Linked DNA regions of Homo sapiens. The protein of the gene in region 2 purifies or fractionates together with the protein of the main gene of each other region. This does not show direct contact. Each region holds a gene or a part of one and is shown on either strand. Other genes may lie near its edges.

Region 1 (2,171 bases), on a different chromosome or scaffold from region 2:
GATTCTTACTGTTTTCTGCCTAATTTGTTGCAGCACAAGCTCCGGGTGGATAAGGCAGCTGCTGCAGCAGCGGCACTACAAGCCAAATCAGATGAGAAGGCGGCGGTTGCAGGCAAGAAGCCTGTGGTAGGTAAGAAAGGAAAGAAGGCTGCTGTTGGTGTTAAGAAGCAGAAGAAGCCTCTGGTGGGAAAAAAGGCAGCAGCTACCAAGAAACCAGCCCCTGAAAAGAAGCCTGCAGAGAAGAAACCTACTACAGAGGAGAAGAAGCCTGCTGCATAAACTCTTAAATTTGATTATTCCATAAAGGTCAAATCATTTTGGACAGCTTCTTTTGAATAAAGACCTGATTATACAGGCAGTGAGAAACATGACTTGGTGTGCTCTGTAAAGCTTGGTTAGAATTTTTTTAAAGTGACATTTTGTTGGCCATAATTTAGACTGTTACATTTTATATAGTGTGGTATAAAATGGGGCATGGATTTATACTAAGTCCATGGAGTTCAGTGGAAGGGGAATGATTTAAAAAAAGTTGTGGTTTTCTAAATAATGTGGCTTGAAAAATAGGTGTAACAGGACTTGGTCAGAAACGCAGAGGCTGTTCAAGTTTAGCTCCCCACCAGATGGAAAATAGGTTAAATTCTGTAAAGATTTAACTTTAACCACAAGAGGGCACAACTGGAGAGCACAATTTTTTTGGTACTGCAGTAAAATTGATTACCTCTTGAGAAGTGTTCTTTTTAACCAGCTATAACAATAGAGTTGAGTATTTTCACCCATGGTTTGAAAAAGTGCCAGAAGGCCACACTGGCCCACATCTGTAATCCCAACACTTTGGGACCCTAAGGTGGGCAGAGCACTTGAGCCAATGAGTTCAAGACCAGCCTGGTCAACATGATGAAATCTCGTCTCTACTGAAAATATAAAAAATAGCCAGTCATGGTGCATGCCTGTAACCCCAGCTACTTGGAGGCTGAGGCAAGAGAATCACTTGAACCTGGGAGGTGGAGGTTGCAATGAGCCAAGATTGTACCATTGCCCTCCAGCCTGGGCGTCAGAGCAAGACTCTCTGAAAAGTACCAGAAGCATTTTTCAGGACTGCCTGTGTGTCTTGGTGATTATGTTAACCAACTGTGTTCAAAAGAAGTACCCATGAAATGCCTCCAGATATAAGGGTGTTTTTTTTTACCCATAAAGCTAAACTGCAAATATTACCCTAGAATTAACCTCTTGTCCTGTGTCAAAAGTCTTGTTTTGCATCTGGATTGTTAAACTGTCAGCTTCTCTCTGACAGTCTCGAACTGTCAAGACAGTCTCAGTTCACAGCCAAGGTGATCTGTTAACCCTCCCCATTTCCAGGGCCAAATCTCAGTTCTTAAGCACGTCGTTTCTTAGCACGGCTTTATTTTCATGCTCTTTATTTCTCTATTTTGTGCAGCCTTACCCCTTTAAAGTCCACTGTGAGTCCTACCCTGCAGGGCCTCTTAACACAGTAGAGTTCATGTGCTACTGATTTGGTGCCTGCCTTCAAACACATGTGCAAGTTTTGTGGGGTTAAAGATAGCCACTTGGTGGCACACCACATTGGAAGTGCTGTTCACCCGGTCATTTGAAACGGTGTTTGACCACTTGGTGCGCAAATGGCCTATCGGATTAAAGGATAGCCAAACCCAAGATTTCTTCAGGTTCTTTACAGCTCCATGGATCTAATTTCAAAATCCTGATCATTACTCATGAATCAAGGTGTTTTGACACAGGCTGTACCCCTTCCTGCAGCTCGTCCCCCGCGGAGTGGCCAGGCTACGGCGGGCGCCGGAAGGGGGCGCACTCCTCGCCTTTCCTCAATGTGTCGGGCAGCCCCGCCTCCCCGCTCGGTTTCCGGGAGTCGGCGGCGATGGCGTCATCACCGAGTGCCGGGCCGACAGCAGCCCGGAGGTTGGCTATGTGACCAGGCAACATGCTGAGCCGGCTTCAGGAACTGCGCAAGGAGGAGGAGACGCTGCTGCGGTTGAAGGCAGCCCTGCACGACCAGCTGAACCGCCTCAAGGTGACCCCGCGGCCCTCTCCTGCCCCTCCTCCATTCCTCCCGAGCGACCATTTCCCCCCAACCTGGGCCTCTGTGGTGACCACCTGCTGCGGCCAGTTCTCCGCTACTCACTAGCTGTGGTGGCGCC
Region 2 (3,216 bases):
GTTCTAGCACTGGCTTAAATCTCTGCTTTCACCAAAAGCTTTAAAAAATAAAAATAGGCCGGGCGCGGTGGCTTGGCCTGTAACCCCAGCACTTTGGGAGGCCGAGGCGGGCAGATCAGCTGAAGTCAGGAGTTTGAGACCAGCCTAACCAACATGGAGAAACCCGTCTCTATTAAAAATACAAAATTAGCCGGGCGTGGGGGCACATGCCTGTAATCCCAGCTACTCTGGAGGCTGAGGCAGGAGAATCACTTGAACCTGAGAGGTGGAGGTTGCAGTGAGCCGAGATTGCGCCATTGCCCTCCAGCCTGGGAACAAGAGTGAAACTGTCTCAAAAAAAAAAAAAAAAAAAATCACCTTCCTTGAGATAACCAAAATAAAATAGTGTGTCACTATAATATTACAATTATGGACACCTCCATTTACCTTGTAAGCCCCATGGATACACCAACATTACACATCTGTTCTTGTTTTAAGCTATTGATAATGCTGCTTTTCCCCACATTTGGGAAACCTACAAATAAATGGGAAATCCAGATATAAAAAGCATTATATGTTGGCACTTATGAAATTTTCACTGCCTAATTTTCCATTTCCCTGATGTTTAGGGCAAGATCAGAGTTGGATCTCAGTGTCTTCACTTCAATACTAAGACCAATTTTAGTTTCTTCATTTCTTGCACAAGTAATGCAAAGGCAGGAAAATACTATAAATTCAAACAAACCAAGAACTTTTAGAAACCAGCTTCCTACAGTAATCAGTCCCAACAAAAAACCTGAATCTGGCAGCAGTTGTGTAAGTTTTTTTCTTTAAATTGTGTGTGGTTATGTGCTTTCAGTAAGGTATAAGCAAGAAGCTAGTATTTGAGTGAGCCTTTTACTTGACAACAACTCCATACACTGCTGCTTGGGCACTTGGAGAGCTGGCTAAACTTCTTAACTATTTCAACACTTAAAAAGTAAAAAGTAATGAACTGAAACTCACCAATTACTCCAACCCGAATGGCTTTGCTGCAAGTTTCCTGAAAACCTCCAAGAAGTTTCCAAAGGCCCTCTTTCCCAAAGCAGACTTCACTTCTGAATGGAGCAGCATTCTTCTTTGCCTTCACACGCTAAAATTCCAAATAGTTGAATTATTCTGGCAACTTACCTGATAAATTTCAACAAACCCCAAGCAATCAGGCTCCAGAGCCCAGCTCTTAAGATAACTACATTGCCTTTCAGATGATCTCTGGCTGAAATCAGAGTTGGATCTTGTAATTTTTCATTCACTTAAATCAAGATTTTGTACACTCATCATATTTCAACCAAAATCTGAAAGAATCACATTTCTTACCACTAATAAAGGATACCTTGGTTATCTTCCCTTTATCCTTTGGTTTTGTTGAGGCTCTGAACACCACTGTTGGCAATTCTTTCTTCAAATAATTTAGCCAGCTCTCCAAATTCTCCTTTGGTACCAGATCTGATAGCAATTAGAAATAAGACATTTGCGGCCAGGCACGGTGGCTCACGCCTGTAATCCCAGCACTTTGGGAGGCCGAGACAGGCGGATCACGAGTTCAGGAGATCAAGACCATCCTGGCTAACACGATAAAACCCCGTCTCTACTAAAAATACAAAAAAATTAGCTGGGCGTGGTGGTGGGCACCTGTAGTCCCAGCTACTCGGGAGGCTGAGGCAGGAGAACGGCGTGAACCCGGGAGGTGGAGCTTGCAGTGAGCTGAGATGGCGCCACTGCACTCCAGCCTGGGTGACACAGCAAGCCTCCATCTCAAAAAGAAAAAAAGAAAAAGACATTTGCTCCAATGTGGCTATTTTGTTGAGATGCATTTGCAAAATCTGGCAACTATAGATTTTACTCTGGTTTACATTTTCCCAGTCCTTTCAAAAGGATTTAACTAGAAAATCAGGGCAGGGTAAGCTCCCCTACCATACTGCCCGTATCTTAACAGAGCTCAGCATCTGCACTTCTCTATTTCAATTCCCCTTGTATTGCTCACTTGAAAACTTCAGGACAGACTCAACGTCTGGATTACAACCCTACTAACCCTAGAGCTATGTTTCCAGAATTTACCTTTAGCTAGCAGCCAATTGTTTCTTCATTTTTGAGACGAAGTGTTGTTGCCCAGGCTGGAGTGCAGTGGCACAGTATCGGCTCACTGCAACCTCCGCCTCCCGGGTTCAAGCAATTCTCCTGCCTCAGCCTTCCGAGTAGCTGGGACTACAAGTGCCCATCATCATGCCCGGCTAATATTTGTATTTTAGTAGAGATGGGGTTTCGCCGTGTTGGCCAGGCTTTTCTCGAACTCCTGGCCTCAAGTGATGTGCCCACTTCAGCCTCCCAAGCAGCCAATTGTTTCTTAACCCCAACAACAATTTTAGATCTCATTCCCATTTTCTGCTTTGTAATTCTCTGTTCTGGGTTTTCTTTTTCCTGCTGCTCAAACTCAGATGCATAATTATGCATTTCATTTAAATATTTTGTCACATACGTTCCAATTTATTTCACTCTTGAACTAATACCCGACATTGTGTAGGTGTGGGGAATTTGTCACACTGTCATCACTTCCTAGATGAAATATACTACACAATAAGCTGGGTATAGCAGCTTACACTCTTTATTTAAAAGATGGTAAATACTGAATGGCAAAAGAATAGTAGAAACCAGTTGAGTCAGTTGTAAAAGTCACCTGGCTCCCCACTGCCTAGCACTGTCTCTGGCAAAGTGCACGTACTCTGGCTTTGCTGAGATCAGAGTTGGATCTAATCAGTCTTCAGTGACTATCAGACTGTTTCCTCGTACCTCACCCATGTACACAGAAGACAAAGGGTACCCTCTTTACTCACCTGATTTATTTAATATAAGTACCAGCTTTTTCTGTCCACTCTGGACAATGGCCTCTTCTACCTGAGGACATCTGCAACCAAGAGGATCTCTGGCATCCAACACCTCTAGGACAACATCGGAGGCTTCAATCACCTATCAAGGAAAAAATGACCAGAACTACATTATCAAGGAGAAAATGATCAGAACTACATCCCTTGTTCTGGTAATACCTTCCACAAGAGAGTACTGGCATTATCCATTTAGCAACAGGGTGAGCTCAGAGTTGGATCTCATGTCTTCACTTTGGTATGAAGAATGTTGACCCTCATCATTTCTCACACAGGAAAGTAAAACATAGGCTTGCTCAGCAGTCTCTGATCAAGATGG
Region 3 (3,495 bases), on a different chromosome or scaffold from region 2:
CTATTTCTTCCAAGGAAGGTAGCCACATCCTGCCTCTGATCTGCGTTTCCCATCATCTTTGCCTGCTCAGCCTCCTGTCCTGCCCTGGCTGCAGCACAGCTAATAGTGGCTTAAGAGGAGTGGCAGGTCCATGTGCTTCCCATCCTGGCTCCTCCTTCCATTCCTGTGCATTGCCTTTTTTCTGGCTGTCACGCATTCTTGGCTTCCATTTCCTCAATCACATTGCCCTACCTCCCTTCATGGGCTCTCTTTTCTCCCTCCCCACGGCTGTTGCCGGTGGTGGCTGTAGGTGCGGACTCGAGACATGGGCGGCTACAGCACCACAACCGACTTCATCAAGTCTGTCATCGGTCACCTGCAGACTAAAGGGAGCTAGAGCCCTTTATTTCTTCCAACCTTGCAAGGACCACACTCCCCATACCCTTCAGTGCAGTGTACCAGGGAAGAGACCTTGTGCCTCTAAGCAGTGGACCATGGTCACCTTGCTGGGTAGAGCCTAGGTTGTCCTTGGGCCGGCTTCCTTAGGGGACAGACTGTTGGGTGGTGATGGGGATTGTTAGGATGGAGCCCAGGCCACATGGATGATGATGATTCTCCCCCACAGGTTCGAACCTCTGACATGGGTGGCTATGCTACTTGCCATGACTTCACTGAGGCTGTCATTGCTGCCTTGCCCCACCCATAGGCCCTGTCCATACCCATGTAAGGTGTTCAATAAAGAACATGAACCAACTCTTGTGAATTTGTTTTTATTGGGGAACACGGCACAGGGTGGGAAATGTCACCTTGGGCTATGGTATGCCCCACCTCCCAGAGAATGTCCATTTGCATTCTAATCTTCCTGGGATGCTTTATGGAACTTTTTCTTCTTCTTGGAGCTGCTCTTGCCAACCGCCTCTTCAGGCCCACTGCTGACCGGCTCCTCTTTGGAGAATTTCCTCTTTTTCTTGGAGCCACTTCTGTGGCCTGCCTCCTCAGGGTCATTAACTGTTTCCTCCTTGGGTGTAGACTTCTTCCTCTTGGGAATACTGGTGCTGCCAGCGGTCTCTTCAAGATCGCTACTCATCAACTCCTCCTTGGAAAAAGATTTCTTTTTCTTGGGTTTGGAGAAAGAGATAGATGGGTCTTCCATTCCATTCTCCTGAGGAACCTCCTGGGGCTTTTGCTTTTTCTTCTTTTTGGGTTTTTCACTCATCTCCTAAAGGGAAGGACAGGGGAACAGGCTGTGAGAACAGTGCTCATTACATCTTCAGCAATTAAGTAGCCAAGGCAGGGGAACGCGTGTCGTTAACATTGCCCAGTGTTTCTGGGATAGTTTAATTGTGTGGGTATAACTTTAGAAATCCACCCCAAAGGCTGTCCCAAATTAGAAGGAAAACATGTCATGAGAAATTACCTCAGCCCATTAAAAAAAAAAACCTAAAAAACACCCACCATGCTGGTCGCAACAGAACCATCATGCCAAGTTCCAGACAGGGCCCTGAAACACTGTTTAAGAAACTGGGTGCTAAATGAAAATCTCAGGGAGAATGATTGTAGCTTAGCACATTGGGGACCTCCCTGCCCCCATCCCCACTGTGAAACACGACCACCTCCGGACACACGTCTGATAATAAGCAGAGCAGGAATTTACACTACCCCAGGTTGAGGACTCCTGGGAGGCAGCCGAGGACAGAACACACATGCCCAGGGAACGGGTGTGAGCTACAACCAGCTCTCTGGGCTCTTGAGCAAGTTCAGCACCTATCTCCTTCCTATAGAATCAAGAGGTAGTTTTAGATGTTTCAGGTCCTTGTTTCAGTCCAAAAGCCTGGACTCAAGACCACAGCTTGATGCAGCATATCCTTTGTTCTGCTGTTGAAAATCCTACAACCTAGGATCTCTGCCAGGGCCGTGCTGCCTACTGACCTCACACTCCTCTGGAGTACTACTGCTGTTTTCTGAAGACGCGAGGGCAAGTGCAGCCAGCCGTTTCTTTTCCTTCTTTAAGCGTTTCTTCTCCTGTTTCTCCAGCTTCCTAGTAATCTCAGCAGCCGCTTCCTCTGCCTGGTCAAAGAAAAGTGCTAAAAGGGCCTGAAGACTTCTGGTGCTCTGAGGACTCCTTTCTGGCTTTATTGGATCAGGCTCATTAAATCAGTTTTTTTGCCTCCATTCTACAAGGTCAGGCTCAGACAGTTCATCACCTCCAACAGCTAGCTATGCCACTCCACACCCAGCAAAGCCCAACTGACCTGAACCATTGCTTCCTTCATGACATCCAGATTCTTTCGTGGTATCTCTCCAGTCTCATAGAAGGACAGTCGCTCTTCAACTTGTTCTCGAAGCTTCTCCCCGAATACACTCGTGGGCACCTCTGGATGTGTGTGGGTGACAAAGCCTGTCAGCCCAAAGAGAGAAACTACCCCAACCCTGTGTTCCCTCTACCCTCAGCTTCACTCAGACCCAGAGTCTCAACACTCACTAGGTGAACTGCTGTTGACGAAAAATATTGCCATCATTGTGGAAGCTATGGTTGCAAGCCTCCCCACCCAGCCACCCAGCCCCTTCTCACACCTGCCAACGCCCCCCCACCCATACCAGAGAAGCAATCGATTCGTGAGGCAATACTGCATTTGTTTGCCAGGTATCGGGAGATGCGGCCTTTGTTCTTGGCAGCTGCTCGGCCAATGAAGGTGGAGTGGAAAATGAGTCCATATTTTGGAGTGTTACCCCTTGTCTTCAGGGCTCTGAGAGAATATTCAGTGGAGAGTTTAAGATCAGAAATTTCAACCCCATTAGCCAAGGCAGCTCAGCTCCTCCCCTCCTCTCACCCCGAAGTCCTGAGTGAGCCTCAGGCCAGATTGGATCTCTACCCCAATGCATGCCAACCCATAGCTCCCAGAGGCAGAGGGAAGGCATCCAATGTCGCTGACCTGGAAACTTGGTCCCTTTGCTGGGCCCTGGGAATCACTCAGACACCAGGACTGGCCATCACCCCCATAGCAGAGGCCTGTATAGGTCAGGGAGCCCTGGTCAGCCATCACCGTGATCCCCCAACAAGCAGTGGGCACCAGAAGTGGCACCTGATTGTGGGCAGGTGCCCTCACTGGTACCTGAACAGGGCCTTTTCAGCCCCAAGGATCTGCACTGTGGATGCTGGATACTTGGCCAGGTTGGTGAGGCTGCCAGCATGTGCGATGAGACGTGCACCTACCTGGAGAGAGAGTCAAGGAAGCAGTCAGAGAAATGAACTGCTGACCTGCCCAGTTGCACGACAGCCCTGCTCCCCACCTCCCCATCAAGCACAACTAGGGAAGACATGGTGGGTCACGAAATACAGCAGTGCAGGTGCACATGGCAACAGTCCTTATTCTCCCATTTTTGAGTCCCCTGTGACGCACCGCTTCCCCAATTAGGGCTGACAGGCTGGGGGCTACTTGGCTCATCTTGGAGCGCAGGTAAGTGTGTAGGCTCTGGCGGTATTCAGATAAAGACACCACACGACTGGAGAAGCTC

The links.
Region 1: the proteins of GNL3 (region 2) and RPL4 purify together in Homo sapiens (affinity purification with mass spectrometry; 2 studies listed by BioGRID and IntAct, with this or other methods). This does not show direct contact.
Region 3: the proteins of GNL3 (region 2) and NOP56 purify together in Homo sapiens (affinity purification with mass spectrometry; 4 studies listed by BioGRID and IntAct, with this or other methods). This does not show direct contact.

Annotation. Positions count from the first base shown.
Region 1 is NC_000015.10:66,497,515-66,499,685, reverse strand, and holds the end of RPL4 (large ribosomal subunit protein uL4), read left to right. Parts: intron 1-33; coding exon 34-279; 3' UTR 280-1,671; downstream 1,672-2,171. Other genes in the region: SNAPC5 (snRNA-activating protein complex subunit 5), read left to right, coding at 1,955-2,044. UniProt on the Homo sapiens protein: Component of the large ribosomal subunit. The ribosome is a large ribonucleoprotein complex responsible for the synthesis of proteins in the cell.
Region 2 is NC_000003.12:52,688,840-52,692,055, reverse strand, and holds part of GNL3 (guanine nucleotide-binding protein-like 3), read right to left. Parts: intron 3,170-3,216; exon of another isoform or gene 3,023-3,169; intron 2,983-3,022; coding exon 2,850-2,982; intron 2,817-2,849; exon of another isoform or gene 2,741-2,816; intron 1,465-2,740; coding exon 1,352-1,464; intron 1,319-1,351; exon of another isoform or gene 1,226-1,318; intron 1,112-1,225; coding exon 985-1,111; intron 679-984; exon of another isoform or gene 612-678; intron 515-611; coding exon 427-514; intron 1-426. UniProt on the Homo sapiens protein: May be required to maintain the proliferative capacity of stem cells. Stabilizes MDM2 by preventing its ubiquitination, and hence proteasomal degradation.
Region 3 is NC_000020.11:2,655,632-2,659,126, reverse strand, and holds the end of NOP56 (nucleolar protein 56), read right to left. Parts: coding exon 3,381-3,495; intron 3,194-3,380; coding exon 3,093-3,193; exon of another isoform or gene 2,913-3,092; intron 2,727-2,912; coding exon 2,578-2,726; intron 2,504-2,577; exon of another isoform or gene 2,433-2,503; intron 2,354-2,432; coding exon 2,232-2,353; intron 2,189-2,231; exon of another isoform or gene 2,117-2,188; intron 2,047-2,116; coding exon 1,909-2,046; intron 1,755-1,908; exon of another isoform or gene 1,639-1,754; intron 1,199-1,638; coding exon 833-1,198; 3' UTR 734-832; downstream 1-733. Other genes in the region: IDH3B (isocitrate dehydrogenase [NAD] subunit beta, mitochondrial isoform e precursor), read left to right, coding at 290-368, 605-618. UniProt on the Homo sapiens protein: Involved in the early to middle stages of 60S ribosomal subunit biogenesis. Required for the biogenesis of box C/D snoRNAs such U3, U8 and U14 snoRNAs. Part of the small subunit (SSU) processome, first precursor of the small eukaryotic ribosomal subunit.